5 linked regions of the Homo sapiens genome follow. The protein of the gene in region 4 interacts with the protein of the main gene of each other region in a biochemical or structural test. Each region holds a gene or a part of one and is shown on either strand. Other genes may lie near its edges.

The links.
Region 1: the proteins of LRRK1 (region 4) and PAK6 form a complex in vitro, tested with the Homo sapiens proteins (one large-scale study listed by BioGRID).
Region 2: the proteins of LRRK1 (region 4) and ENKUR form a complex in vitro, tested with the Homo sapiens proteins (one large-scale study listed by BioGRID).
Region 3: the proteins of LRRK1 (region 4) and KIF20A form a complex in vitro, tested with the Homo sapiens proteins (one large-scale study listed by BioGRID).
Region 5: of the proteins of LRRK1 (region 4) and CDK5RAP2, one has a biochemical effect on the other in vitro, tested with the Homo sapiens proteins (one study listed by BioGRID).

The regions. Positions count from the first base shown.
Region 1 is NC_000015.10:40,240,636-40,246,451, reverse strand, and holds part of PAK6 (serine/threonine-protein kinase PAK 6), read right to left. Parts: 5' UTR 5,771-5,816; intron 1-5,770. UniProt on the Homo sapiens protein: Serine/threonine protein kinase that plays a role in the regulation of gene transcription. The kinase activity is induced by various effectors including AR or MAP2K6/MAPKK6.
Region 2 is NC_000010.11:24,990,682-24,996,497, forward strand, and holds part of ENKUR (enkurin), read right to left. Parts: intron 5,189-5,816; coding exon 4,965-5,188; intron 1-4,964. UniProt on the Homo sapiens protein: Adapter that functions to localize a calcium-sensitive signal transduction machinery in sperm to a calcium-permeable ion channel.
Region 3 is NC_000005.10:138,180,536-138,185,907, reverse strand, and holds part of KIF20A (kinesin-like protein KIF20A), read right to left. Parts: intron 4,487-5,372; coding exon 4,397-4,486; intron 4,300-4,396; coding exon 4,180-4,299; intron 3,586-4,179; coding exon 3,447-3,585; intron 3,323-3,446; coding exon 3,135-3,322; intron 3,048-3,134; coding exon 2,918-3,047; intron 2,740-2,917; coding exon 2,545-2,739; intron 2,439-2,544; coding exon 2,327-2,438; intron 2,221-2,326; coding exon 2,152-2,220; intron 1,947-2,151; coding exon 1,803-1,946; intron 1,670-1,802; coding exon 1,504-1,669; intron 1,397-1,503; coding exon 1,232-1,396; intron 1,102-1,231; coding exon 962-1,101; intron 814-961; coding exon 711-813; intron 397-710; coding exon 198-396; intron 1-197. UniProt on the Homo sapiens protein: Mitotic kinesin required for chromosome passenger complex (CPC)-mediated cytokinesis. Following phosphorylation by PLK1, involved in recruitment of PLK1 to the central spindle. Interacts with guanosine triphosphate (GTP)-bound forms of RAB6A and RAB6B.
Region 4 is NC_000015.10:101,060,468-101,066,283, reverse strand, and holds part of LRRK1 (leucine-rich repeat serine/threonine-protein kinase 1), read right to left. Parts: intron 5,114-5,816; coding exon 4,996-5,113; intron 3,711-4,995; coding exon 3,594-3,710; intron 2,883-3,593; exon of another isoform or gene 933-2,882; coding exon 79-932; intron 1-78.
Region 5 is NC_000009.12:120,403,352-120,409,167, forward strand, and holds part of CDK5RAP2 (CDK5 regulatory subunit-associated protein 2), read right to left. Parts: coding exon 5,776-5,816; intron 5,118-5,775; coding exon 4,996-5,117; intron 3,898-4,995; coding exon 3,661-3,897; intron 763-3,660; coding exon 685-762; intron 1-684. UniProt on the Homo sapiens protein: Potential regulator of CDK5 activity via its interaction with CDK5R1. Negative regulator of centriole disengagement (licensing) which maintains centriole engagement and cohesion. Involved in regulation of mitotic spindle orientation.

The sequences.
Region 1 (5,816 bases), about 61 Mb from region 4:
CTGGATCCCAGACACATCATCAGCAAGATCCACTCTAGTGGAATAGAAAAAGTCTTCTTGTCTAGCTTGGGCCTGGTGACCGGTGGCAAGTGACAGGCCTCCTGCTTCTGGGAACTGACCTCTGATGGTGGCTATTGGACATGTAAATGTCTGCCTGGGGTCAAAAGTCTACACTAATGAGAAGATCACCTGAAGAACAGGGCCTCCCAGGTGCCTCCCCTACCCTTTGCCCCAGAATCTCCGTTTCATCTCTGGCACTCATCATGACTCCCTTCTTTGGCCTAAGACATGAAGTTACCTGGGACAAAAAGAACTTCAATCAATCAATTTATAAATTAGTTAGATCTCTTCAACAGAGAGTGGCCTGGTCCCCAAGAGTGGCCTGGGTGCTGTGTGCAAAGTTTATCCTCGGGAAGCACTTGACTGACAAGCGTGGGCTGGGCTGTGGTTTCAGGTCTAGCAGAATGCAGGGGGATGGCAGGAGGCACCCAAATAGCACAATAGGAGCAAAGCGGGGACCTGCCCAGCCTCCCAATGTGTCAGGCCAGGCCGCCTCTCCCAAGCCATCAAGTTACCCAGTGGCTGCTGCCTGCTCCTGCATGGGCCCCTTGGTAGCACGGGGGTGGGGGTTCAGCCTGGGTAGCAAGAGTGCTGGGCAGGCAGCTGGGGATCCCTGGGCTGGAAACTGACTCTGCCATTAGTTAGCTGTGTGGCCTCAGGACCCACTTTCCTTCTCTGGACCTCTGTTTCCCGCTCTAAAATTATGGGGGCTGGACGAAACATCCTCCGGGGACTCCCTTTGGCTTGAATGTGCTACAGCAATCTGAGATGGCCAGCTCTTTCCTGGGGCAGCCTTTTCCTCCTCAGAGCTCCTCTTTGCTGATCTGAGACTGTGCTCTGGTGGTGCAGGAGGCTGTGGCATAACTGGTCCCCTCGCTCCCTCCACCCTCTGTGCTTTCTTGCACAATTCCATAAGCTGAAAGAAAGAAAATGGAGGCTAGAGCCTCTCCAGGCCAGGAAGCTGAGCCACAGAACCAGTCCTCCCGGTTTTAAAGTTTTAACTCTGCTGCTGCTGCTGCAGCCTTTAGGAGTCCTGGTCACCAGGCAGGCAGGCAGGCAGCAGGAGGTCTTGGGCAAGGTGACTGGTTTGTTGCTATCTGCACTGAGTTGAGTAGGCTGGTCCCCGCTGCACTGGGATCAGAGATCAAAATACAGCACCAGCTGAACTGAGCTTTCTGAACCTGCTTCCCTGGACACCCAGAGGATCCCTCACCAGGTCCTTGACAGCCTGAAGGACACAGCTCTGCTTCCAGCCCCTTAGCAAGAGGCCCAAAGAGCTGAGTGCATGGAGGCTGTGGGCAGACCAGAGCACAAGAGATTGTTGCCTAGGCAGAGAGACACTGGGATTGGCTGACCGAGGCAGCACTTTTGGGGAATAGGTTGCCACGGAGAATCCACAGGTGTCAAAAAAAGTCATCACTGGCCCTATGTGAATACTTGGGTCTCTGCCCTGCCTGATGTGTCGTGATGAGGTTTTGTAGGAAATGCTGGCCAGCAGAGGTGTCCCTTTGCTGGGGCTGAGGCAGTTGCGGCCTCTCATGTAGTTATGAGGGAACCTGTTTTTTCACATGTGAGTTCCCCCAGCCCAAGAAAGCCTGTCATGCTCTGGGGTTGCCTTGTTTTTCTTAGGTGAATAAGCTTTAGGATTACCTTTCCTAAATTCATAGAACAGATAATCCTTTGTAGAAAAAGCAGGCTGGGTGTGGTGGCTCACATCTGTAATCCCAGCACTTTGGGAGGCTGAGGTCGGCGGATCACCTGAGGTCAGGAGTTCGAGACTAGCCTGGCCAACATAGTGAAACCCCATCTCTACTAAAAATACAAAAATCAGCCGGGCATGGTGGTGGGTGCTTGTAATCCCACCTACTTGGGAGGCTGAGGCAGGAGAATCGCTTGAACCAGGGAGGCGGAGGTTGCAGAGAGCCAAGATCGTGCCACTGCACTCCAGCCTGGGCAACAAGAGCGAAACTCTGTCTCAAAAAAAAAAATAAAAAGAAAAAAAGAGAAAACAAAAGTCTCTGAGATGGAACCTCACGATTACTGGCCTTTTTTTTTTTTTTTTGAGACAGAGTCTTGCTCTGTGGCCAGGCTGGAGTGCAGTGGCACGATCCCAGCTCACTACAACCTCCGCCTCCTGGGTTCAAGCGATTCCCCTGCCTCAGCCTCCCGGGTAGCTGGGACTACAGGCACGCGCCACCACGTCCAGCTAATTTTTTGTATTTTTTAGTAGAGACGGGGTTCACCATGTTGGCCAGGATGGTCTGGATCTCTTGATCTTGTGATCTGCCTACCTCAGCCTCCCAAAGTGCTGGGATTACAGGCGTGAGCCACTGCACCTTGCCCACGATTACTAGGCATTTCTAAGCTACTTGCCAGAGTGATCCAGGAGCCTGCCGTGGCCTTGTCTGGCCCCTCTGCCTGCCACATCACCAAGTGTATGCTTTAGATGGGGCTCAGCAGAACACAGTTCCTCATGCAGTTAGGACCAGCATGTGAAAAAAGCTTCCAGTCCCCAAAAGGAGTAGGGCCAGGGCCACAGCCCGGCTCTCGATCCCTTCACTAGGGGCAGCCCACTTCAAGTCCTCAAGACCTCCAAGTCTAGACCCCAGAAAGAGGAGTCTCAAGTTATTCCTTAGAAAGCCTCAGTGGACAAACAATATGCTATTTGGGAAAAAAATAGACCTGGCATTATTGTTTCTTCCCAGCTTTCCTGGGCATTCTGAGAGCTTTTGTTTCTCCTCAGAGGAGGGTTCTTTCAAAGTCACCTCCTCCGTGAAGCCTTTCCTGATTCCCCCGAACAAGGTATGGTCTCTCCTGGCACTTTGTTCCTCTGACACCAGTTATCATCACGGTGATAATAGTTATCTCTTGCTGAACATGTACGTATGTGCCAGTCATGCCATTCAGAGCATTCACTTATTATCTTATTTAATCCTCTCAACAACCCTAACTCATAGGTACTATAATTATCTCTGTTGGACAGGAGAGGAAATTGAGACCCAGAGACATGAAGTAACTTGCCCGAGTCACCAGGAAGAGGCAGCACCGGGCCTGAGGCTCATGCTGCTGACTTCATGTTAACCAACCACCATCCTGCCTCTTCCCGCCCTGGTCTATCTCCCCGAGCCTTCACCTCCTCCTGCAACTGCAGATAGAAGCTGCTTCTTCCTTTGTTTGTCATTCTCAACTTATCTTTTTTGTCCATCTTTATAAAGTTCTATGTTAAGAACCGTTGCCCAGTATTGGTGTAAATTTATAAATTATCTGGGCTGGATGGGTCATGGCTGCCAACTTCAGCGATGAGTTGGACCCAGAGTTGGCAAAAGGACGAAGCCACCTGGGGGCTGATGGTGGCTTTGTGGCTCCGCTTGTTTCTGGCGCGGTTGGCCCCACGCTCAGCTCAGCTTTCCTTTCCACTGCTCTGCTGCAGGGCTATGAGCATCCCCAGGGCAAGAGCTCTGTCCTGCTTTGTCCACCCCCTCTTCCTGCCACCAGTGCTTGCACCTAGTAGTCAGGCCATGGCTGTCATCTGCTTGGCAGCCTGTGCGCCAGAACAAGGTGCTGCCTGGACCCCACACCCTCCCAGGAAGAGACACGGTCCCCTTTATCTCACATCTCACTCTTCTCGCTTTAGCCCTTCCTGGCCCCTAGGGCTGAGCTCTGGTGGGGTGGAGGGCACCTCCTCAGAAGGGGACAACTTCCCAGGCCCAGGCAGACTGCTCGCCCTGGGCAGGAGGGCCAGCCTTGGCTTCAGCAAGTTCAGAACTCATTCTGCCCTCAGAAGCTTCCATTTGCAATGCTCCTCCCCAACCTGCTGGCTAGTCCACCTCTTTCTACCAAGGAGGCTCCCAGAAATAAGCTCTCTCCTTGAGGCCCGGTAGGTGCAGGCGGCCAGATGCCTCCTGATGAGCTTTACTGGTGTCCTTCCTGCTGCTCAGGTCTCAGGCACTGCTTCCGCAGCCTGGGCCTTCCTGCTCAGGGCGACGAGCGCATCTTACGGGAAGGACTTTCTGCTTCAGTCCACAGGACAGCCTCCCATGAGTCCTTCCTGCCTTCTGCACCCAGGACACTGTGTGCGGTGGGCATCTCTGGGCCATTTGGGTGAGGAATTCAATCTTTCAGTGTCTTAGCCTCTTCCCTGCCCAGTCACCTACGCAGAGGGCCTCTCCCACAGAAGCGGGCTGGCATAAGAAGGCCAGCTGTCTGGAGTCCTCCCTGAGCCCTCAGGACCCCAGGCAGCCTTTTCCTTTCCTGCTCAGCCTGCCCTGGCCCCTACTCTCTGCTCCCTCCTGGCCCAACCTGCTGCCCGCTGCTGGCCTGCTGTCTACCTAGTGCTCGACAGCCTCCGCCCCTCTGACCCCAACTGGGCAGCAGCCCCTGCTCAGCTCTGCATGCATGGAAGACTCCTAGGCACAGAGTCACCTTTTGTGAGGCAGCATGAGATACCCCCACAGCTGGGTCATTCTCCTCATCCAGGAGCCAGGTGTGGGAATTCACTGGCATGAGAGACACTTATGGGTTCCTCCTGACTCTGAGCACATGTGCTCCTCCAGGGCAGGGGACTTTTTGGTCATCCTTAGGAGTTGTGCACAGAGCGGGCTTTCCTTGGCTGGAGACCCCACCCACTGCACCCTCCCTGTGTCTGGCAAGTCCGGGAGGGCCCAGAGCACTCACAAAGCATCAGTTTGTCCTCGGGGCACTGGAGAGGCCGTGCAGTCCCCACACTCCCCCTCTCAGGTGCACAGAGCTTCCATCCAAATCAGCTGCTCCCAGAAGGGCTTGCCTCTGGTGCCGACCCTTCCCTGACCAGGCGCTCTGTCACTAGGGCTCCCAGGTGCCACCTCCAAGCCTGGGCCAGGACAACCGCCAGGGAAGCCTGCCTGCAGAGGGGACTCCTTGCTTGCCCCAAAGGCCTCAACCCCAGCTAGATGAGCTCCCGTGGGGCTGAGTCCCAGGCCCACCAGGCCTGGGGGCCACACGGCTCCTAAGCTCATCCTCTCCTCCTGCAGCCCAGTTCCCACCAGAACCAGCCTCAGGAAGACCCCAGGCAGAACGGCACAAACCTCTTGGTGTACAATGCCAGGGAAAGGATAACTGGAGACCACAAGACGTTAGCCTTGCTTCCCGGTGGGGCCCAGTGCTTTATAAACCCGAGCTCACTGGGCCCGATGTCCCCAAAGCTGACCAGGTCATCCACCCTGCAGCAGGGGTGGGGAGACCAAGGCCTGTGAGGAGTGACCGTGCTTGGCCAGGCAGCTCCCTGAACCTGCCCTGATGCTGAGTTTCAGAGTCAGAATCTGTGCCAGGTCAAACCCAGCCAAAGGGTGTGACTTGGAGCCTGGGACCCAGCAGTGCTCCCTAAATATTTGTGGAATGAATACACAAGGGAAATGTCCCAGAGGTGGTAAAGTGAGAGGGGCCTTGGATAGGGGTGTCCCGGTGGCACTGGCTTGGCCCAGCTGGGGCAGGAAGAGTAGAAACAAGCACCTCTCCCTCTAGCTAGGGAGCCAGAGACCAGCTGGGATTGGACTGTTTCACAATCAATCTGGAAAGAAGGTGGCAGGCCGGGTGGGGAGTGGAGCCCCTTGACCCAGGAACCCACAGCTGTGGAGTTAGCCTCCCTGTCCCAGGTGGGAGGCAGCCTGGACACCTTGGCACCCCCGTCCCTAGCCCAGGAATCCGGAGCACGCAGCGGCAGTGGGGACCTTACCGTGGCTGCTCCTTCTGGGCAGCGGGGTCCTGCGTTCTCCACTGCA
Region 2 (5,816 bases), on a different chromosome or scaffold from region 4:
TGATGGAAGAAAAAGAAATGGTACAGACTAAATCCTTTGTTCAAAACCCTGTAAATTGACAAAATTCAGTGACTTTTTTCCCTCCATTGAGAGCTAGTAGATTCCTGCCTTTTAAAATGGAGTTGTTATTGCCCAGGCATAGTGGCTCACACCTGTAATCCCAGCACTTTGGGAGGCTGAGGGGTGGGGGGGTGGATCACTTGAGGTCAGGAGTTCGAGACCAGCCTGGCCAACATGGTGAAACCCCGTCTCTACTAAAAATACAGAAATTAGCCAGGCATCGTGGCATGTGCCAGTAGTCCCAGCTATTCGGGTGGCTGAGGCACAAAAATCTCTTGAATCTGGGAGGCAGAGGTTACAGTGAGCCAAGGTGCCACTGCACTCCAGCCTGGGTGTCAGAGTGTGACTCCATCTCTAAATACATAAATAAATGGAGTTGTTATTGCAGTTGCTTGTTTTCCCTTTTCTGAATGTTTCCCACGCCTGCTCCTGGCTGATACTTTACTCCTAAGAGTTGGCTTTTCTACCTTCTACGTTCTTCAGTTTTTACCTGAAATATCTTGAATAAGATATTCAAGAGTTGGCTTTTCTACCTTCTACCTTCTACATGCTTCAGTTTTTACCTGAAATATCTTGAATATTTTGAAGTCTCTTTTTCGTGGTCTCGTTAAAGAAAAGACAAAGTCTTTGAAAACTTATGCCTCCATCCTGTGCCTATAAAACCCCCCGAGACCCTAGCAGGCAGGCACACAAATGGCTGGACGTCGAGAGGAACACATCAATGGAAGAACGTATAAGTGGAGGCTGTTGACAGGGGCGTGCCAACAAAAGAGCACACCAATGGGCACCAGCATGCCGGCAGGCCATCGATCAGTGGAACAACGCAGAGTTTGGCCGGGGTGGTGGGAGGAGAGCCCGGGCCACAGAGCTGCCCGGCTCCAGGGAAAAACCATCTCCCTTCTGGCTCTCCCATCTGCTGAAGCTACTTCCACTCAATAAAACCTTGCACTCATTCTCCAAGCCCACGTGTGATCCAATTCTTCAAGTATACCAAGGCAAGACTCCTGGGATACAGAAAGTCCTTTGGAAGCCCTCTGTCCTTGTCATAAGGCAGGGAGTCTAATTGAGCAAACACAAGCCACCTATGGACAGCTAAACCAAAAGAGCACCCTGTAACACACGCCCACTGCGGCTTCAGGAGCTGTAAACATCGACCCATAGACCCTGCTTTGGAGTCAGAGCCTCACAACCTGCCCTTCGGCATGCTCCCCCTAGAAGTGTGAGCAGTGGGGCACTGAAGAAGTGAGCCACAGCCCTATGGTACACTCTGCGAGGGGAATAAGGGAATTTTCCCATGTCACAACGACTGACAGTGAAGCCATCAGCTGTGATTCTTTCAGCTTAGTAAATGCGTTTGATTTCACCATCTATAGAAACAGAATTACTATGTATTCCTTCTTCAAAAGATGTTTGAGAATGTACTTGGTGCTAGGAATACTAGTGAATAAAAAAGGCAAAGTTTCCGTCTTCAGGGAATTTGCATTCTATGGTGACAGAGACTCACCAAAAATAGAGAATGAAATAATATGTATGTGTTCTGAAGTAAAATAAAGAAGGATAGTGGGGGAAAAGAAAATAATAGGGGCTATTTTAGATAAATAAGGAGGTCGGGGAGGAACTCTCCGAAGAAGCAGCAGTTGGGAGGTATGGTAGTCATTAAAATTCTGACAAATATTCTGTTCTCCTTCTAGACACTTGGTAGGACAACACTTTCCTGTGTTGTCCTCATAAAGTAAGATGTAGCCATATGCCCTGAATTGCTCAGTGTCAGTGGAGGTGACCTCTGCCACTTCTCGATAGGAGTCTTAAGAATTAGTGGATGACTTGCTGTGTCTTTTCCTGTCTGGTCTAGTGACAAGCAATGTTTAGATTTTTCTGGGTCCTGGAAGAAGGACAAGAAGCAGAGCCTGTAACAACCCTCAAAGGGCACGTGGCAAAAGCAAACAATAACACTTTGTTGCTTTAAGTTACTGAAATTTGGGGATTGTTTGTCATCACAGTGTAACTTAACCCATCCTGACTGAACAAGGGATAGAAATCCTAGATATAAATGTGTTCTGGAAGCTGCAGAGGACAATACAAATAGACTCTGGGAGGCCAGTATTCTGGTCAGCTGGTGCAGTGAGTGAGACAGGCCAATCCACTTCAGGAAACACTGAAGGAAACACCTCATTACAGCTTAGTACAATAATGGAGCTTCATCATGATGATTCTGCAGGATCACAGAAAGATTAAATTATATTTGGCATACTCTGTTTAAGAAAGAGAATGACTGGGCGCAGTGGCTCAAGCCTGTAACCCCAGCACTTTGGGACAGCTAGGCAGGAGAACTGCTTGAGCCCAAAAGTTCAAGACCAGCCTGGGCAACATAGTGAGACTCCATCTCTAAAAAAAATTAAATTAAGTGTTTTTAAAAAGAAAGGGAATGGTGTGATACAGTTCAGAAAAAAAACTCACAAATGAGCAAAAGCTTCAATGATCTGAAATATTCCTATGGGCTGAATCACCGGAGGCTAATGCATACTGTTAATAAAATTGCATATATTATACTATTCACTCTTTGTTCTTTTATTAGGTGTCACATTTTGTGTCAAGTGCTCAATATACTTTATATAATTTAATCCTCACTACAACCCTGTGATAAATCCAATGGATTGTTGGAAATCACAGTTACTAAGTGGCAGAGTTAGACTTTGAAAGAATGTCTTTACTGGTATTGCTAAATACCTCATGTGATCATCTATCCTTGCTTGTTTTCAGAAATTGTTTCTCATGGTATGAATGGCATATAATTCACTTGGAGCTGAAATGGGAGTTCACTCATTTTATAAAAATATGACATTGACTTTAAAAGAATTTATTTACTATCTCACCTACCAATGATAGATCTTTAAAACTTAACTCTGATAAGGGAAAAGTAAATTGAGTAAGTCTTTCATGAGCACTGATTGCTTAGTCAGCAACACCAAAAGGGCATTAGGTGCACAGTGCTTTCATGGTTTGGTAAACTCTGGTATTTTTCTGTTTCCATGATGGATACTCCAAATTTCCTGTTGAAGGTAGAAAATGCATTCAAGTGGACAGCTTAGAGAGCAGCCAGAAGGGAGGGGCAGAGTGTGTGACAGGTGGTGGCATGACCAGTAAAGACTTTTCATATGATCATGGAGAAATAATGGACTGGAAGTGGCTTTAAGAGCCATGAGAGTGAGTTTTCCACTTTTCCCTATCCTGTGGGACAACGACTATAAAACAGTTTCCAGGGGCCACAGAAGGAGGAAGTACCTGGAGAAGCCTGAAGTAACTTTATTGGCTTATCCTGGGAACTCCTAGATTCCTGAGAAGACAGTGTCCTCTGAAAACAGCCTTGAGGGTCCTGTTTTGATTTTCCACTGGCATTGGATTTATCATGGTAGATCACTGGACTCTTCAATTTTAGGTCCCTGTACATCACTATTGCAATTTCTTTTCTTTTTTTCTTTATCTCTCTTCCTTTTTCTTTATCTCTCTCTTCCTTTTTCCTTCCTTCCTTTCCTTTCTCCCTCCCTTCCTTCATTTCTTCTTGATGCAACTTATTATTCTTTAGAATTCTGCACTCTTTTTTTTTTTTTTTGACACCGAGTCTCGCTCTGTCACCCAGGCTGGAGTGCAGTGACGCGACCTTGGCTCACTGCAACCCCCGCCTCCTGGGATCAAGCGATTCTCGTGCCTTAGCCACCCGAGTAGCTGGGATTACAGGCACACACCACCACGCCTGGCTAATTTTTGTATTTTTAGTAGAGATGGGGTGTCACCATGTTGGCCAAGATGGACTTGAACTCCTGACCTCAAGCAATCCTCCTGGCCTTCTAAAGTGCTGGGATTACAGTTGTGAGCCACTGTGCCCAGCCTGCATTCATATTTTGTGTGTTTCAAGCACTTTTAAGCTTTATAAGTGCGCAAAATAAAGTAGCATTAAATAAGATTTTTTGTAAGCTTTTTTATTTTAAAGATCTGTATTTGGCTGGGTGCAGTGGCTTATGTCTGCAATCCCAGCACTTTGGGAGGCTGAGGTGGGTGGATCACTTGAGGTCAGGAGTCAAGACCAGCCTGGCCAACATGGTGAAACCCCCTGTCTACTAAATATACAAAAAAATAACCAGGCCTGGTGATGCATGCCTGTAATTCCAGCTACTTGGGAGGCTGAGTGAGGAGAATCACTCGAGCCGGAAGTTGGAAGTTGCAGTGAGCTGAGATTGCACCATTGTACTCCAGCCTGGGAAACAGCATGAGAATATGTCTCAAAAAAAATCTATATTTAAACTATAATGTTCACCAATGAAATTACACACCTTTTCAGATACAAATGAAGGACCCAAAAGGACTAGATTATTGTACAGTACTTTCAAGTCTTTACCCAAAACCAAAACCAAATAAATATATTCATGTTAAAATAGGAATGTGAATTATTTATACTACACTGATGAGATGGATGGCTCTAAAGCTGCATTCTGCTTCATTTTTCTTATTCAGCTGCCAAGTTACTGCAATTAATGACTAAATCTTAAGACCATCTGACAGCTTATTCCTTCTAGATTTACAGTAATGACTGCTTTTAGTGACATTTCCAACTAACCAAAAATATCTTTCAGAGAATGTTTATTAAAATTGTTAAATATGTTAATAATCAAAATTAAGGAAAACAATAACTTTTATCTACTGAACTATATGGAATTGTTTACTATGGGTTCTTTGTAACTTCATCCCATTACATTTGGACCAAACACAGATTGCAGAAGAATGAGAATCAGCAAAGTAGACAATGTGTCCAATGAGAGCACTAATAATGATAACATAGATGATCATCATGAACACCATATTTAAATTATTTGAATTTCAGCCCTCTTATTAATATACCACAAGGCTACCTTTTTATTGATGTACTTTGGAACTAGTCCTGAAGGCTCAAGATCATGCTTGTCTCCAGTTCTTTTATCAACATAAATTGGTTTAGGCTTTTTAGCCACTCCCATGATGATATCAGCTGCATTTGTATTTATAAAATTTTTTCCACTCTGTATTCCCATGACAGGATGATCAGTCTTCAATGGCACAGCAGGCTTTTTGGGCACGTTCCGATCAAAGTTTTTTTCTGTTAAATATAACATTTCTTTGTTAATATTAAACTACAAACACTGCTACTCAGTGCTATTTATAATATCCAGATATTTCACCACTTGTATATTGAAGTTGCAGTCATAATATATTTAAATATTTAAGATAGAAGTTTATGCTTACCCCCAAACTCATTGACTTGTAGACATTAAATATGCACAGCTTTTTACCTGTCAATCAGGCCTCAATAAAATAATTTTTTAAAAAGAAAAAAAGTCAGTAATTAAAATGGAAATAAATTAAGGGCAACATAATCAATTAATATGTTGAGGAGGCCGGGCACGGTGGCCCACGGTGACGTGGGCAGATCGCTTGAGCTCAGGAGTCTGAGACCAGTCTCGGCAACACAGTGAAACCCCATCTCTGCAAAAAATGCAAAGTTAGCCAAGCATGATAGTGTGCACCCTTAGTCCCAGCTACTCAGGAGGCTGAGGTGGGAGGATTGCTTCAGCCTGGGAGGCGGAGGTTGCAGTGAACCGAGATCATGCCATTGTACTCCAGCCTGGGTGACGGAGTGAGACTCTGTCTCAAAAAAGATCATATATGTGTGTGTGTGTGTGTGTGTATATATATATATATGAACAGTATATAAATACAAGGAAGAA
Region 3 (5,372 bases), on a different chromosome or scaffold from region 4:
CTAACCTCTTTAACTGAGGTAACAGTAGCTTGCAGCAAATATAAAAAGTGAGGCTATGTGTATCCTAGATTGAAATGTCAGGGGGATGTAGCTTGCAGTTTAGGAAATTATGTTAGAGCAGGAGTTAGAAGGCCTGGGTTTAAGTAACAGCTCTTCCCTGAACCACTGTTATGTTTCCTGCCTGTCTCTTTCCTCACCTTCAGTGGTAGAGTTTAGCTCTGCTTTGCACTGCTGTAATTTAGCTTTAACCTCCTGAAGCTGCTGGGTGGAGGCAGAAGCTGCCAACCTTTGTGACCGCCGTAGGGCCAATTCAGACCCTGATTGCTGATGGGCCACTGACTGTTGTCTGGCTTCCTGCAAGAGAGCTTCTAGCTCTTCAATCTTTTCATCCCGCTCCTAAGAGGGAAGCAGAGAGCACAATTCTTTGCAGAGCCAGAAAAATATTGCTAAGACAGATGACTGAACAAACAAAGCACTTGTGACACTGATCCCTTGAAAACCTGTTGTTAGCACTTAATACGATTTCCTGGCCAACTAAACCCTTAATCAATTCACCAAACATAGATTGAACCCAAAGCACTATGGGGAATAGAGAAAAGGGAGTTATATATTCCTGCCCTTACTGGAGTAGTTTATAAAATCTCTTTACTTCAGGCAAGCTAGTGATGGAAATCTGAGCAGCTAATTGGAGCTGGCTCAGGGCAACTCACCTGAATCTCTTCTTGGTAAAAACTTGTCAGTGACTCCTTGAGGATATTTAGTTTTTCTTCATACATTTCCTCCAATAGTTCCTTTTGGGTGTCCAAATGTTCACTGTCAGAAACAGAGGAGAAAAGAGAGGTAAGTGAAGGTTCTGAGGAGTGAACTTGGGGAACAGATCTTGAGGCACAACTCCACCTAACTCCTTACTTCCCACCCTCTGTCTCAGGTGACAGAGCAAGAGGGGTCACTCAGCTAGTACCTGCACCACTGTTCCCGCTGTTGCATCTGTTCTACCATCTCATTGCAAATTTCATCTCGGAGATGCATCTCCAGCTGTAGCTTTTCCTGTCGTTCCTTCAAAAGCAGTGTCTTCATGGCTTCCACAACTTGTAGGAGCTCCTAGGAGAGACACACATGTCAGAGGTCATCAGATGCTCATGCCCTCAGAAGGCACAAGCCCACCTGGAAGGCACCATGGAAAAATGTGTAGCTACTAAGCTGCTACACTAAAGCTTTCTTGTATTCTCACCTCTTTGCCATACATGGAGATGTCAGCTTCATTTTCAATATCATCATCAAGGCCTGTGTCTGCCTTAGCCCCTTTCTCTAAGCTGGGGGATACCTGAAGACTATGTTCCTTGATGAACGAGTGCAGGGATGGGAATCCCAGTTGCATAGGTGGGGCATGCACAAGCTAGAGGGAAAAAAAATATCTTACTTGACTCCATAAGTAGTCCCTAGGAGCTTTCTTAGAGTTACCAGTTCCAAGTGCGCACACCCATCACACCTCTAGCTTCTCACCTGGCTAGCAATGGCTGAGAACTTGGCCACATGAAGAGTTTCATCATAGGTAGATGCACAGGGATTCACATTGACAATCATGCAGGAACGGCCTCGGCCTGTGAAGAAACCTTGGAACACTCGAGTCAACTTGCTGTCACGGAAGGGAACCAGGTTCTGCTTTGACCTGGCAGAGAATCAGAGATAATAGAGCTGTGAGCAGAACACCAGCCCTTTGGGTATCCTAGCACCATCCCCAGTGGTGTCCAGGAAGTCTCTTAGCAAATTGCAGAGCCCAGGAATTATAGTCAAAAGCTCACCGGTTCTGCTGGTTTTGACGAAGGGCAGCAATACAGCGGCCCAGGGTGTGTAGAGAGGTGTTAATGTTTCCTGCTTCCTTCAACCGTTCACCACTCTTCTGATCTTTGCAGCGCTCTGAGCCAGCCAGATCACAGAGTGACAGCCTAGAATGATGCACAGGATCTGACATAAGGGCCTCACATGTTATGAGCCTTCTGGCCCTTTGTATAATTCTGGAGAGGGGACGGCCCACTAAGAATCTCTGTACCCAAAGAAGGAGAACACATAGTTCCCCTGAGGACCTCCTCCATGCTTTCCCAACTATCATTTATGGCCAAGAAGCCCAAATTTCTAAATGGATAAACTTACTCGCTGATCTTGGGGACTATATCTCCTTCCCCCTGAAGGTGTAGGATCCTGATTGAGAAGATGCTGTGACTGGAAGTTAAGAAAAACAAAAAGTCATTGCACATTTTCCATGACCAGGCAGAGGACTAATGTTTCCTGGAACACAGTGAAGAGTTTATTCTTACAATCTACTCACCTGCGGCTGGAGTTCTGGTTGAGGTGGGTGCTGGCAAAGCTCTGGTTCTTACGACCCACTTTTAGGAGCTTCCAGGCCTCCTCAGCATCTTGCACATGAATCCAGTTGAGATCTGGGGCCAAAGGAGAGGGGTGTAAGATGGGAACATCCAACTCTTTTGCCAGTCTCTCCCCAGTTGCCCTCCAGGGTTCATGCCAGCTTTCCCCATGTTCCTTTACCTTTCACATAGGGATTGCCATTTTGATCCTCGCATAGCCGCAAAGTCTGCCTCTTGCGCTGTTGGCTAGGCGGTTCTAATAGGTCATAAAGCAGTTCGTTGTAGATCTCAAAGAATGAGATCCAGATGGAGAAGCGAATGTTTGCCGGGACAGGTAGTGGGGCAGTGTCTGGCTGTGCCCATCGATGACTTGTTTCTGGAGAAGAAGCCAATGTATAGGGCATCAACCTAGAGCAGTTCACCTCTCTTTTGGCCTGCAGGGGCCTTGGAAGGCAGACCTTAGATTGCAACCTCTGGTCTGTACTCCTGGCAGCTATTAGGAACAGGGAGTGAGTTCCTACTATTTTTTGGCAGAGCCCAGTCACGGTACATACCATCCAGCTGGCTACTGCTGGTACACTGACTGATAGAAGAGAGCCCAGCAATGCCACTGTCGAAGCTGGTGCTGGTACCTATCCGACTTTCGATGTAGACACTCCTCTTCAAGGAAGTGGACAGCTCCTCCTGGAGGGGCACAGGGAGAAGGTAAGCACAAAACTTCCCCGAGATTTGTACCCCCTACCCCCACTGCCATGGATACCAATGCTTTACCTCTTGGAGGCCTCCATTTAGCAGGGACAGCTTCTTCATTTCCTCCTGTCGGATCTGCTTGCTGTCTAGCCAGATTACCTCATTGGAGAGCAAGGGCTTCAGATCAGGTGTTGGATGAAGTTGGCCTTGGAGGCTATTGAAGATCAGCGCCAGGGACCGGGGGAGAATCCCTCCATCCTTGATGGTACCTGGAGGCATATGAAAGATGGACAGCTGAGGCAAGTGCCCTTCTCCCCCTAACTCAGAGTCTCAAAAGGTAAAAACAACACCATTACCAGCCAATCAGGAATCCCGTGAAGGCTTACTACTCACCTTGAATCGTGTGGGTTTTCCCTGAGTTAGTGACTCCATATGTATAGATGAGCCAGTTCTGCCCTTTGAGTACATCCTTTACCATCTCCTTCACAGTTAGGTTGAAGAAGGATGCCTGTCCCACTTCTGGCCCAAAGATCTAGAGAGAGACCCAGTTTTTTAGAGGCCTCTCCTTCATCTCCCACTTGCCTCCTGTGCAGAGCCAGCAGATATATTCCTTCCTGAGTGGTTGGCTCTGGAGACCACTCAAGCAGCTTCTTCCTGCAATGCTGCTGGCTGTTCCCTAAACACTGAGGACTCAAGCACTCTCTGCTAGTCCATCTTTCCACCAAATCAACAAACACTTAAGGAATGCTATGCCCTAGGCCTGATGCTGCACACACAATGGGGCAATATAATGGCCCACAAGTATGGGCTTTGGAGATACATGGATCTAGACTCAGGTCCTAACTCTACTAGTGACTAGCTACATGGCTTCAGCAATATTACATTCATTGAGCCACACTATCCTTGTGAGGAAAATAAGGAAATAATGATAATAACAATAGAATTTTTCAGAACTGATATACATATGTTACTTGACACATTGACTAACACATAACTAGGGCCCTCAAAATTGTAGGTGTGCATATACAAGGAACTCACAGTCAGGAAGAGAAGCTTTCCCTCTAAAGAGGGAATAAAGTTGCCCTTACATGTTGGTCTTTTGTTCACAAACCAGTACCCTCCATACCTGGGAAAAGGTGAACCTGTGTGTGGCTTGGCCAATTCCCCGTTCATTGCTCTTCAGGGCAAAAGAGTCCTTGGGTGCTTGTAGAACAAGGGTCTCCACATTCTCAATACGGACACAACCCTGAGAAGGGAGAAAATACAGTTGTCACAGAAGGCATTCCTGGGAATCTTTTGTACTGCATCATTTCACCTTGAATCCTCCCTTCTCAGACACTTACCTGATCTTCCTGTCGTTCCAACTCTGAAGGTAACAAGGGCCTAACCCTCAAGTATACTTTCACCTTCTCCATACTGTCCTCAGATGGAACCTGTGGCAGAATCCCAGCCCAGAACCACAGATTAATTTCAGCAGTTACCTCTGAGCAAATGGGCAAACAGTAGTTTCTAGGAACTATGATAACACTACCCCATTTCACCTCAAATGTCTCTGTGCAGCTACTCTTTGGTTCCACAATCATTCCAACCCACATGGACATTTTTACTACTTTGTCACCCTTCCCTGTCTCGTCATTATCCTGCAAATGTGGCTTGCCACACCGATGATCTGAGTTCGAATTTATTGACTGGTATGAAAATTAGTATGTGATATTAAAGCAAAGCAGAGGCAAACACTTGAATTTGAGTCCCAATTCCATGACTTAGTAACTATGAGACCTTGAATTATGAGTTCTTGAAATTCTTGGCCTCAGTTTCCTCATCTGCAGAATGGGGTTAATAATAGCACCTATGTCATTCATTCAACAGATACTTAGAGGCTGGGTGCAGGGGCTCACGCCTATAATCCCGGCACTTTGGGAGGCCAAAGAGGGTGGATCACCTGAGGTCAGGAGTTCCAGACCAGTCTGGCCAACACAGCAAAACCCCATCTCTACTAAAAATACAAAAATTAGCTGGGCTTGGTGGTAGGTGCCTGTAATTCCAGCTACTCAGGAGGCTGAGGCAGGGAGAACTGCTTGAACCCGGGAGGCGGAGGTTGCAGTGAGCAGAGATTGTGCCACTGCACACCAGCCTGGGGGACAGAGCGAGACTCCATCTCGAAAACAAAAAAACCCAAAAAACAAAAAAAACCCAGATATTTAGAGTGTCTACTATGGCCTAGGAACCGAGAAGCTCTGATAGTCCATAGTGAGAGACATCATCAAGGACCATGCTCTCATGGAACTTTATAAGTCTCTAAGAGAAACTCTATAAGAG
Region 4 (5,816 bases):
GGGGCTTCCCCTTGCTCTGTCCCCAGAGCAGGAGCAGTGGGCGTGCCCTGGATGGTGCCCTCACCTCGGGAAACGTACCTGGGGACCCAAATGAGGTCTCTGACGGCGAGGATCTTCACGGCCTGCAGGTGCTGGCTGAAGGTCTCCCCGTCCATGGGGGTCAGGTCATGCTCAGACCTGTCGGAGGCAGCACCGGGCGTATGTAGCATGTCTGAGTCCTCGCAGTCGGTGGAGAAAGGCACACTGGAAGAACTTGCTGGGGAGCTGGGGAGGCTTGAGGGGGACCTGGCAGCCTGGCGGGGTGGGGATGAGGAGTAGGAGGACATGGAGCAGTAGTCAGTGAGTGATTCCTGGTGGATCAGGATCTGCGTGCCCAGCTCCTCACTGTACATGATGCTCACGTCCGCGATGGAGTCCCCCTCAGGCACCTTTGGGTTGGCCGTGTGGCTGGCTGCCGGGGGTTCCGTGTCCAAGGGCCGCACGGGAAACATGTCCCTGAGGGGGCTGGGGACCCCGCAGAAGTACCGGGCACACAGCTGGTAGGTGGTGGAGTGGTACATCACCAAGGAGTTGGCCTTGTCATCCAGGCACCAGACGACCTCCTCCCCTCTGCCCTCAGAGCTGCACACGACTGACGTAACCATGGAGGGGGCCATGTAGGGCTCCAGCCGCCTGCAGATCTCCAGGGAGGCACAGTCGATGACAAGGAGGCCCGGCCCATTGCTGTACCAGACCTCAGAGCCGCTGTTGACCACCTCCATGGCCTTCACTGGGTAGGGGTTCTGCCGTGCGTCTTCATCCGCGATGCTGAACTTGGACCTGTTGGCTGTGTGTGAGCACAGGTAGGAGCAGCTGTCCTTTGGGGTGCCCCGCACCACGGGAAACACAGCCACAAGCCCATCGGCGAGGCCCGCTAAGACCAGGTAGGAATTCTGAAGGAAGGAGACAGGGATGTGTCACATCCTTCCATTTCACACATTCCAAGAGAGACACAGAGTAGGCACTGGACTCATCTGCACCCACACCAGGCGGGCAGTCACTTTCCACCAGTGCGCCTCAGGGCAGCAAATCTCTTAGAAAGGCCGGGGCTACTCCTAAAGAAGTGCAGCTCTGACTCCGCAGAGCCATATCTACCATCCCTGCAGCAAAGAAAGGAATGTGCCACCCAGAGGCAGGGCCTGTGGCACCAAGTAAGGCTGCGTGTCACCTGGACCACATGGGCTGCCTCTGCTTCTGCCAGCTTCTTGCAGGGCGAGCAGCAGGGAGCTGCCTTCTCCTTGAGGCCACCAAGGCCTCCTTCAGAGGCAGGACCTGGTGCCCCCGCCCTTTTCTCGGTGCTGCTTAACATGACAGCAGTGGGGGCATGGCAAGCATCTGTGCACTGCCCCCTGCCTGCCACCCCCCCCACCAGGCAGAGTGTTCCATAAGGATGGGCTCCCAGCCCACCAGCATCCCCGTGGCACTAGCCTGGCACAGGGAAGGGCTCAGTCTCCTTCATCTTGGTGGCCCTGTGACTCCACCTGGCTCCTGCTCCAAGTGGATGACATGTGTTTGCTGAACTAATTCTGGAAGAAATCGCTTCCTACTCAACCCTCTTCTGGAGGCCTGTCTCAGCCTGCTGAGCCCTCATCCCAGCTTACATCTATCGAGATGCCTGTGGTTCAGCTGACGTTGACAGGGTCCTCAGGGTGCCCCCCACCCCCTCAATGAAGCATGAGCTCTTCTACACCCGCCAGAGGTCACCGGGCAGAGGCCAAAGTTGCAGGGACCTTGCTGAATGCTGGGCCCACCCCAGACCGCCCCGGGGCACCTCCCAGGGCAGAGCCAGGAACAGAGTGCAGCTCCGCAGCCTAGACACCGCGTCGGCTGTGGTGGGGGTGGGAAGAGGTCTGCAGAACAAAGCTGGAGTCAGGGCAGAGCAGGGAGCTGGGCCTCATGCCAGTGAGGGGGCAGGGCAGAAAGCCTCCTTGTGGGGAGCTGGGGGAGCTCAGGAGGCTGGCTGTGCAGGGCAATGGAGTGGAGACCCGTAGCTCACTGTCCAGGACAACATGCTCTAAGAAAGCGTATCGAAATCCATCCCCAGGACTTTAGGGAAAGAAGGCAGCCAAGGCAAACAGGCTCCAGGTCTCTATCTGCAGTCCTGGCTCAGGCCCCGGCCAGGGCGGTGAGTGCCACGTCCCGGCTGGGTGTGAACGTGGGTGCGCGTGCAAGAATGCAGGCTTCGCGCTGGCGGCCTTGGAGGGGGCAGACACCCTGCCCAGGAGGCCCTGCACAGAGCAGGCTTTATTCCCTCTGGTCGTGCAGGAGGTGGTGCCCTGGCTGGGGGCTCTCGCCAGCGGTGGCCTCAATAACACTTTGTGTCGTGTTCTCCTGCGCTCTGGTACGGGCCTGGTCCCAAGCTGCGTAGCCTCGCTGTGGGGCCATGGTCATAAATGACTCTAAGGTTCATTTCATACCTGTTTTTTTTTTTTTTAAATGAAACTGAAGAAGGGTGAAGAGAAGAGTTCATGTATTTTGCGACCATCCAGAAGTAATAATAATACTCATTTACCAAGCACACCGGCCTAGACCTTTGGGTATGCTAGGCCTTCTGTCTCTTCTTATACCTGTTTTGTAGATGGGCAAACTGGAATTGGATGATGACAGTCACATTTTAACAAAGCAACACCAGTAAAGGCTTCTTGTGCATTTAGTGAGGGCGCCTATGCACAGACAGGCCCCTCAGGGTGGATGAAACCAGAGCTGGCTGAGCCGTGCCTGAATCCTGTGGGCGGAGGAGCCCGGAAAAGCCAGGGAGCTGCCCCCCACTGAGGGGCAGCTTCTCAAAGGAGGGGACAAGGCCCCGGGTCTTGAGAACTGAATCGGAGGCCGTCTGGGAAGAGGTGCGTGGAGGGGCTGTTCCTGGAGGAGGCTGGGATGTCAAGGGCCCAGCACAGAGTGGGGTGCTTTGTGGGGAGGGTGCCGGGCCCAGCAGGGACTGGAGGCCAGCCTCATAGAGGCTGGGGCTAATCCCAAGGTGCAGCACAGCTGGCTGGGCCTTTAATGGGGAGAGTGCCCCTTGGGGTCTCATTTAGAAAGGCCAGGGCTAGGAGGTTAAAGAGCTGAGTCTGCAGGGCTATGCTGCACAAAGAGAAACTGCGTCTGGTGTAAGACGGCGAGTACTTGGCGGGAGGCAGAGATGGAGGGAGGGAGATCAGGACCTCCAGGACCTGGTGATCAAGTGGCTGTGAGGTGGCTCTGGCCTGGGCAGGTGGGGAAGAGGCTCCGGATAGGGGAAGGGCACACGCATGACTGCTCACCGTGCCATTTGTACCAACAGTCCTTCCACCTGAGTCAGGGCATTTGCATGTGAAAGGGGGTTTTTCATTCGGCCTGCAGTCTGGCTGGGGACTTGACTTAGGTTTTTGCAAACCGGAAGGCACTAATGACGGACCAGGTCTGATATCTTTCCTCCCACCGTCTCTAAGTCTACGTCCTAGGCCAGGTGGTCCTAGGTGTGGCTCTGCAGGCGCCACCCTGACATAGCTAGGAGACGCCTCCTAGGCGTGGAAGTGCATCAGAGACCTGCATACCTGCCTTTGCCCCGACCTCACCTTTTTAATAACAGGCACGGCCAAGAAGCAGGTGACGACAGCTGGAGTATCCAAGGCCTGTTGGGGTGTGTTTAAGGGGCACATGCCCTTGAGGGTGTAGATGTAGATTTTCTGGTCCTGCAGAGGCAGACAGGTCCACTGTGAGACCCAGGCTGGAAAGTGTCTGGCATTTCCCAAGCCATTCCCATGAGGATGCACTTGGACTTGGGGATCCCCTATGGGTCTTGGAAAGTTACATGGATTGACACGTTCTGGTGGGTTGTTTATGGATTTCTGCTCTTTGTAGAAACGTTGAAAAAGACAGACTAGTCTAAAGAGGAAACAGAAAATAGCCCGTCATCTATTCCCCAGAGAAAACCAACATTGGGATCTGGGGGCACAGCCTCTCAGAAGTTCTCTGTGGTATTTGTGTGTGCACCTGGTACTGGCAAAGTGGACTCACGCCGCAATGCTGTCTTCTCACTGTTCTTCCCATGTGAGACAGCATGCTTTAGGCAGAGCCCTTGCTTTCCTCACTCTAGGAGGAAATGTTCACTGTTCTTCCCATGCAACAGCACGCTTTAGGCAGAGCCCTTGCTCTCGCCCATTCTAGGAGGAAATGTTGTGGGAGCATCTCTTGGATGCCTGGGACTGGGCTGCACCTACTTCGGCTAATCTGTTGTCAGATGTTTCTTAACACTGAGATTTCTGAGGCTTAAGTGGTACGCAAGGCTGGAGTGCAATGGTGCGATCTTGGCTCATTGCAACCTCCACCTCCTGGGTTCAACCGATTCTCCTGCCTCAGCCTCCTGAGTAGCTGGGAACACTCACGCACCACCATGCCCAGCTAATTTTTGTATTTTTTAGTAGAGACGGGGTTTCACTATGTTGGCCAGGATGGTCTCAATCTCTTGACCTCGTGATCCTCCTATCTTGGCCTCCCAAAGTGCTGGGATTACAGGCGTGAGCCCCTGTGCCTAGCCTGCCTCAGAACATTTGTGTTTGGCCAGTTGTCTCGGGACTTCTCAGAAGACCCCTCCTTGGGCCTTCTAGTGACTTCCCTGATTTCCCTGATGTGAAGGCAAGAGGCCTTCAGAGCTGAGTGACTAGCAGTGTTATGGGAAACACAGGCACGTCCCTAGCCTCCTGGGTCTCGTCTCCTGCTGAGGGTCTACATCTGGTCCTCACCATCGCAAATCCCGGCCTCCAGCCAGCAGCAGGCAGGGTTGAGCTGCCCCTGGTGACAGGCTGCTACTTCTCGGGGCTCCTGGCATTACTTGGGGACTGCACGGGGATGCGCTGGGGGTTATCTGAAAGTTCACTTGACCTGGCGTCCTGTATTTTTATGAATGTGGCCCCCACCCAGGGCTGCACCCAGTGGGCAGTGCTTACCTCGGTGGGCAGGCCTGCGGGCAGTGCTTACCTCGGTGGCTGTCCACAGGGATCTCTGGACCTGGAGCTGGCAGCTCACCTTCATCCCAGGGCAGCACATCCTCTGCACCTCCATGAGGCCCTTCTCTGTGTTCACCACCGTGTAGTTCCTGTAAGTGGCAGAAACTGTGCTGTCAGTGCCCGGGGGCCAGGGGCTGCCTCCTTTCCCTGAGCCTGGCCTGCCAGCTGCGAGCCTCGTCTACCTCCCCTGCTCCCACCCAGGGTTGCATCCTGTGTTCTGAGAGGGCAGAGCCGGGTTCTGCCCGAAGGGTAATGCTTGACCGTCGCCCGCAGGAAGGGCATTCGCCAGAGAAGAAAGGCTGTCCTCTTTCCGTGACCCCTCAGGGTTGAGACGGTTGCCCCCAGTACGAAGGAGGGGCCCTCCCGCCGGCCATATCCTGCCCGCCCCTGTTATGCGGGGAGCTCCTCACTGTAGAGTAGACAAAGCCAGGGCTAAAGACAAGTTGGGAGAATTCCAGAGGAGATTGGGTTGGGGCGGGGGGGCACTCAAAATGTGCTCCCAGCACGAGTGCTCTGAGAACTAATGGCTTGTCATTTGCGAGAGCCTTGGCTCACCAGGCCGGCTGTCCCCGGCATCGCTGTCTCCCCTCAGGCTGTGGCGGGCATCCTGAGCACTCACTGCATGGCAGAGGAGGCTGAAGCTGATGGGGCTGGGAAGTTATGTACCCCGCATCACGCAGCTCTGTCCCTCAGACTCAAGAGAATATGTTAAGCTCGCGGATAGCAGTTCTCAATATAAAGTTTCTCCTGCCACCAAATTTTAAAAAGCTGTTGACTGATAACGTATTTGCA
Region 5 (5,816 bases), on a different chromosome or scaffold from region 4:
GCTGGTGCCTGCATTCCAGTAGCCCACAGTCTGATCAGAACACAGACACTGCAGAAGGTGCAACAGCAGAGTGATGAAGGGCCAGAGCCAGAAAAAACAATTATCTGTGCAGGGAGGGAGAGAACAGGGAAGGCTTCTGAGAAGGAGCAGCATTTGAACTGGATTGAGCAAGTAGCAAGAATTACACGAATGATGAGTCATTCTGACCAAGGACAGCAGCAAAGGCATGTCACAGAGAAATGTGTATTCATGATGAGTCTTGAGGAAACGGGACTTCTACCGGCAAAGAGTGGGACAAAGGGGGTCTAAAAGTCACAGTGAGAGGAAAGTGTGGGCCTGTCTGCAGGATGGTGACCCCTGTGTGGCTACACCAGGTTAAGGGATAAGGCTGGACGGACCCACTGGAGCTGGATCCTGGAGGGCCTTGAAAGCCTCACAAAGGTGGTCACAATTTTAATCTAAGGCAAGAGGGACCCAATGATGTTCTAACCTTGGTAACACCTAGGAGTGGATTAACTGGCTTGAAGGAGAAGATCACCAGCTGGGGATGCTGAGAACTTGAAATCCCAAATCCTTACCAAATACCCTCCTGAGTTGGGACCAGGGACCCCCCTTTTCTGCAAGTTAAAAAGTCTTACTGTCACATCCAATGCTCCCACAGTTACCTGGACTTCAGCTTTGTACCTGATTTTGGTGTCACTGCCTGGGAGGAATCAAACAGATCAAATGAATTATCACTTTCCATGGGATATTTGTCACCATCTACAAAATGCAAAACACGAGAACTGTTAGTTTCACTGTTGTCAGCATTCAAGAGAGAACTGAAAGAGAATACAGTCAAGCCCCTCACATTCACTTATCCATACACACACAGCATTCCTTCAAATCTTCACTGGGCCTCTGTCCTGCCAAGCCCACCTTTGTGGGACACCAGGGAGACAGAGTGACCAGGCCCAGTCCATTCCCTAGAAAAACTCTCAGCAGAAAAGTAAATAAGCAATTTTATTTTAGTGTGATCAAGGACAAGGGAGGGAAACACAGGCTGTTGGGGCTCAGGTGAGGGGCACTACCCCCAACTTGGCTTCCCAAAGGCTAATACCCGTTTTAAAACCTTATGTTTTAAGACTGATTGTGACTGACCTATGGTAAGAAGGAGGGAAAGAAATGCCAGGCAGCACAATGGGCAGGTGAGAGGCAGACAGTGGGACAAAGAGTGGAATCATCGCTCAGGGAGAAATAAGCAGTTCATAGACCCAAGGCCCGGGTGCAGGGAAGGACAAAGTAGAATGCAAGGCCAGAACCAAGAGGACTGAGGGGCCCACTCAAGGGCTTTGGGCAAGGCAATGTCAAGCTGAGGTCTGTATTTTGTACTGAAAGAGTAAGTCTGGAGGCTGCCACACTAACCTAAGCTAGAGATGAGAGTAACCCACAATAGGATCTGGGGGGTGATGTATTTGCAACACTGTAAGGAGGCAAAACCAATAGATGCTGTACAGATGACCTGTGCAACACGTTATAATTTGGAAAGCACTTTCACATATGAAAAGCTATTGGACTCAATAGCTCAGTGGGCAAAACACACTGTAATTCAGATTTCATGGAAGGGGAGACCAAGGGGCAGAGATAGAAAGTGATCTGTCCAGCATAACCCAGCATGTCAGTGGCACAGAGCAAGGAAGCCTAGGGCTTAGGATCCCCCTTCCGAGCTCCTGCACCACTGGGCGGTGGGCTGACTGCACTCCAGCATTTCCCAGGGGTGTGCTACAGTTCCTAAGGCCAAGGAGCCAGGAGGTCAGCTCCATAGAGCTGGCCCCAAGAGGAATCACTCTCAGTGAAAGACATCAGCCTTTAGAACAGAATTTTTAAAACAGATGCACTTAAATACAGACCTGAGAAGTCTTTTGCAAAGGAAGAAATGCTGCTGCCTATAATTCTGATCTTGACTCAAGGAAATTATAAAACTTTTCTGCTGAGGCAGCACTGTGAATTCTGAATGCTCTCCTGGATGCCTCTTGCCAGGCATGATGAGGGCTGCTTTCGGCAAATTTCAAAAGCAGGTAAAGGCTGTTTGATGGCCTCCTCACTTCAGCTACCCAACTCTCCTTCCTGGGTACCCCAAGCACAGAACTGTTCTCCCTGCTTCAAACTCCCCTAGCCTACCCCACAAGTTCCTGAATCCCATCTCCTCAAAGCCTTAAAAAGGGCCAGGTGCAGACCCGTGTTGAAAATAGTAATGCCCAATGCTGAGGTCACACAAAAACCACTACCTTTGTACACTGCTGATGTACAGACTATTTAGAAGGTGGCAATATGGCACCTTTCCAAACTTATGAGGTTCCCCTTGTAGGGTTTTCTCCTAAGAATATTATTTAACAGCAAAAAGCATATTAACATTGATGTCTATTATGGCTCCAAATCAGAGACCACTTTAATAAATCAACGGGGTCATGGATTGGTGACTGAGAATAGCCTGCAAACAATCATTAGGAAGCCCATGTGAAAGCACAGGGAACATGTATGATGTAATATTGGGCAAAAACAAAGAAAGGACACACAATGACACAAAATCCAATTTGAAAAATATAAATTCATGCTCATATTTAATAAATGAAAAAATATGCAAATTTTAAAAAATGATCAATGTGTAGAATCATGAACTTTTTTTCTCTGTTCACTTTTTTCATATTATTACATCATCTTTTTGATTAAATTTTAAGATCCTTGTCAATGAGAAATCAATGAACTAATCACTACGAGCGGACTGACCAGGTGCTCCTTAAGAGATTTATTTTTATTTTTTTAACTAGAGGTATCCAAGTAAAAGTCAGTCCAAACTTTAGTACAATACTTGCTTGTAAAGCAGGCTGGCATTCCTCATCCCACTGGATACACACATTTACCCTATGGGTGTCAGGATGATAATCCCAGGATACCCAACGCTCCAGAGAGTCCAGTGGGGTTTAGGAACAGCCCTGGACTCGAAGCTGGAAATGGTTTCTAGCTCCAGCTCTGCTGCCTACTTGCTGTGCCACTTTGGGCAAGCCCCATCCACTCTCTGGGCCTTTGTTTTTCATCTCTAGAGCAAAGAGGACAGGCTGCCTGATTGCTTGGAGTCTAACCATTTACTGGTTTGCTCCACACCCTGGGTGGGCGGGTGGTAGAGGTGTCTGGTCCTCTTTCTCGTACCCCCCACAGCCTCTCCAGGGCTAGGCAATTAACCTGCACACAAATGCAAAACAGATCCACTTTTTAAACCTATCAGGATGATTTTCAGATCCTGAAAGACACTGAAAGCCAGATTAAGATGTTTAGGTTCCCTTCTAAAGGCAGTAAGAGAAACTAAAAGAAATTTCAGCATCAAAGTGATGCAGGCAGGACTAAATGGATAGGAGGGAGCAAGGCCAGAGGCACTGAGGGTGTCTGGAAGTCCAAATTCCACTTCCCTGAGAATCAAGATGCCTCAGATGGAGATTACGCCACTTTGCCCAAGGTGACCGCTAATTAATTAGCAGTCAGGTCCCCTGGCTCCTAGGGTACAGCATGTCAGCTATCAATGGAAAGACACCTCTGTGGGGCAAAGGCATCATTCAGAAGTTCACATGTCACACACAGATGCTCAGAGCTGCATTCTCAGCAAGTGGGGAGAGGCAGGGGCAGTACCGTGTTTGTCAGGCTGAAGGGGCACCTCAGGGATGGACACGGCTTGGACAGCCAGAGTGAGGGCTCCTTCCTGTGCCTTCTCTGCCCCCCTTGCCAGCTGTTCCTTGAGCCTGCTCTGCAGAGTGCTGCTGGTTTCGATGCTCCTTTCTAGTTGCAAGCGCAGAGCCTGGATCTCCATCAGGAGGCTGTGCAGGTCCCTGAAAGGATCCTGCCCCTTCCAGCCTTCTCCCGACGCCTCTGAGGACATGTGCAAAGAGAAGCCCTGACATCTTCCACAACCAAAGGGTCAGCCATCGAAGGAACTCAATCGCATTTTACACTCACCACCACCATCGCCCTCCCCCTTCCTAAGAACTAGGTACAGTTTAAAATAACAACTTGACTTTAGAAACAAAAATATTGGCAGACTTAATTGCTGCTATTCCACACGCTAAATAAGAGCTGGAAATTAATTTTCGCTTCTGGCCATAAAAGCCTAGCAAATTGCACACCAAACCCCGAAATTATGTCTAGTAGTAATAAAATCTATTTGGGCTAGAATTATAGAATGAAAGGGGATGATTTTAAGAGCCACACTATATTAAAAAGACACAACAGCAAGAATAAAAAAAGCAAGTTGAGGAGAAAATAAAAGCTGTGAGATGACCCCTTTCTAGATAAACTTTCAATAGAGAGAAACCATCTGGAAAATTAGTAAAATAAAAAAAAAAAAAAAACACCTCACCACACCTCAAAATTGATTCTGAAACATTAGACGTTATAGTTGAAGCACTCTGAGCTGGTATCTCTCCTGGGATACAGAGAGCAACGAGGCCAACAACCATCCCCAGAGCAATGCCCAGCACGTGAGAGGTGTCCATAAATGTTTGCTGAATGAGTGGGCAAAAAGTAACATATACTAGCAGGACGATTATAATAAAGGTCATTTCCTGGGTGCCTACTATGTGTCAGGTATCTTGCTAGGATGCTTTTAATAAATGGTCTCATTCAATTTTCAACACAATTCTCCACACAACAGGTGCTGAGAGACATGTTTTACAGAGATAGGTATGGGCTCAAAGGGTGAAGTGGCCTACTGAGGGTCACATAGCTGGGAACAAGTGAGTGGGAACCCGGACCTCGGCTGGCCTGGGTGCTGAGCCTCAGTCCTTCTATGTTTCCTGCTGTTCCTTCAGAAGAAGAGTGGGTCAAAGAGCTAGCTTCAACACCCATCCACTCTACCCACAAGGCCAGAGTGGAGAGGGCTGAGCTCTGCCCTCCTGTGCCTACAGCCAGCTGTCGGGTGGTCTTACAGCCCAAAGCACAGTAGCCTCAAGGTGAGAAGGGCCTCAGTACCTCTCAGTCTCCTGTGCTCTTCATCCAGCTTCTCATACGCCTTCAGCTCCACTCGGAGAGACTGCAATAGCTTGTCATTCTGTGAGAGCAGCTGCTGCCTCAACTTCACCTCCTCCTGCACCCTGAGAAGGCCCCACAGGCATGAGAAGGACAGGTTAATTCTACCTCAGGGTAACTTATTCAAACCCCACAGAGCAGGCCAATTCCACCCTCAGTCACAAGAGTGTGGACCAAGAAGTGACAAGCATGGTTAAGAATTCCATGTGCTCTCTAATCCTAATTCCACTCCTCTGCTCAGAATCTCCCAGTGGCTTCCCATGCCACTCAGAGGAAAACCCAAAGTCCTCACACTGACTCTGCAGCCCGATGTGATTTGGTATCCTGCCAGCCCCCTCTCCAGATACACTGCCCTGCTCTGTCCGGCACAGGCCTAAGCCACTTTGCCTCAGGGCCTGCGCCCATTCTGCCTGAAATGATCTTTCCCAGGTAGCTGCAGCACTCACCTCCTCACTGCATTCAGCTCTCTGAGCAAATGGCATCTTTTCACAAAGGCCTTCCCTGACTCACCCTTGACAAAAAACAGCAACCCACTGCCAAGCCCTCTCCTCCTTACAGGATCTTTCTCCATATGTTGTAGGCGCACCAGACGTACAATGTGTTTGTGTCTACTGCCTGCCACTGTGCACTAAGGCAGAGGCCTGCGTGCTGATTCCACGACTGCAGCCCAGTGCCTGCATGCGTGGTACGGCCAGCAGGCCACCAGGGAAGCACAGCCACTACCTGCTCAGCTCCTGGCCGCTGCAGCGGACCTCCTGGATCAG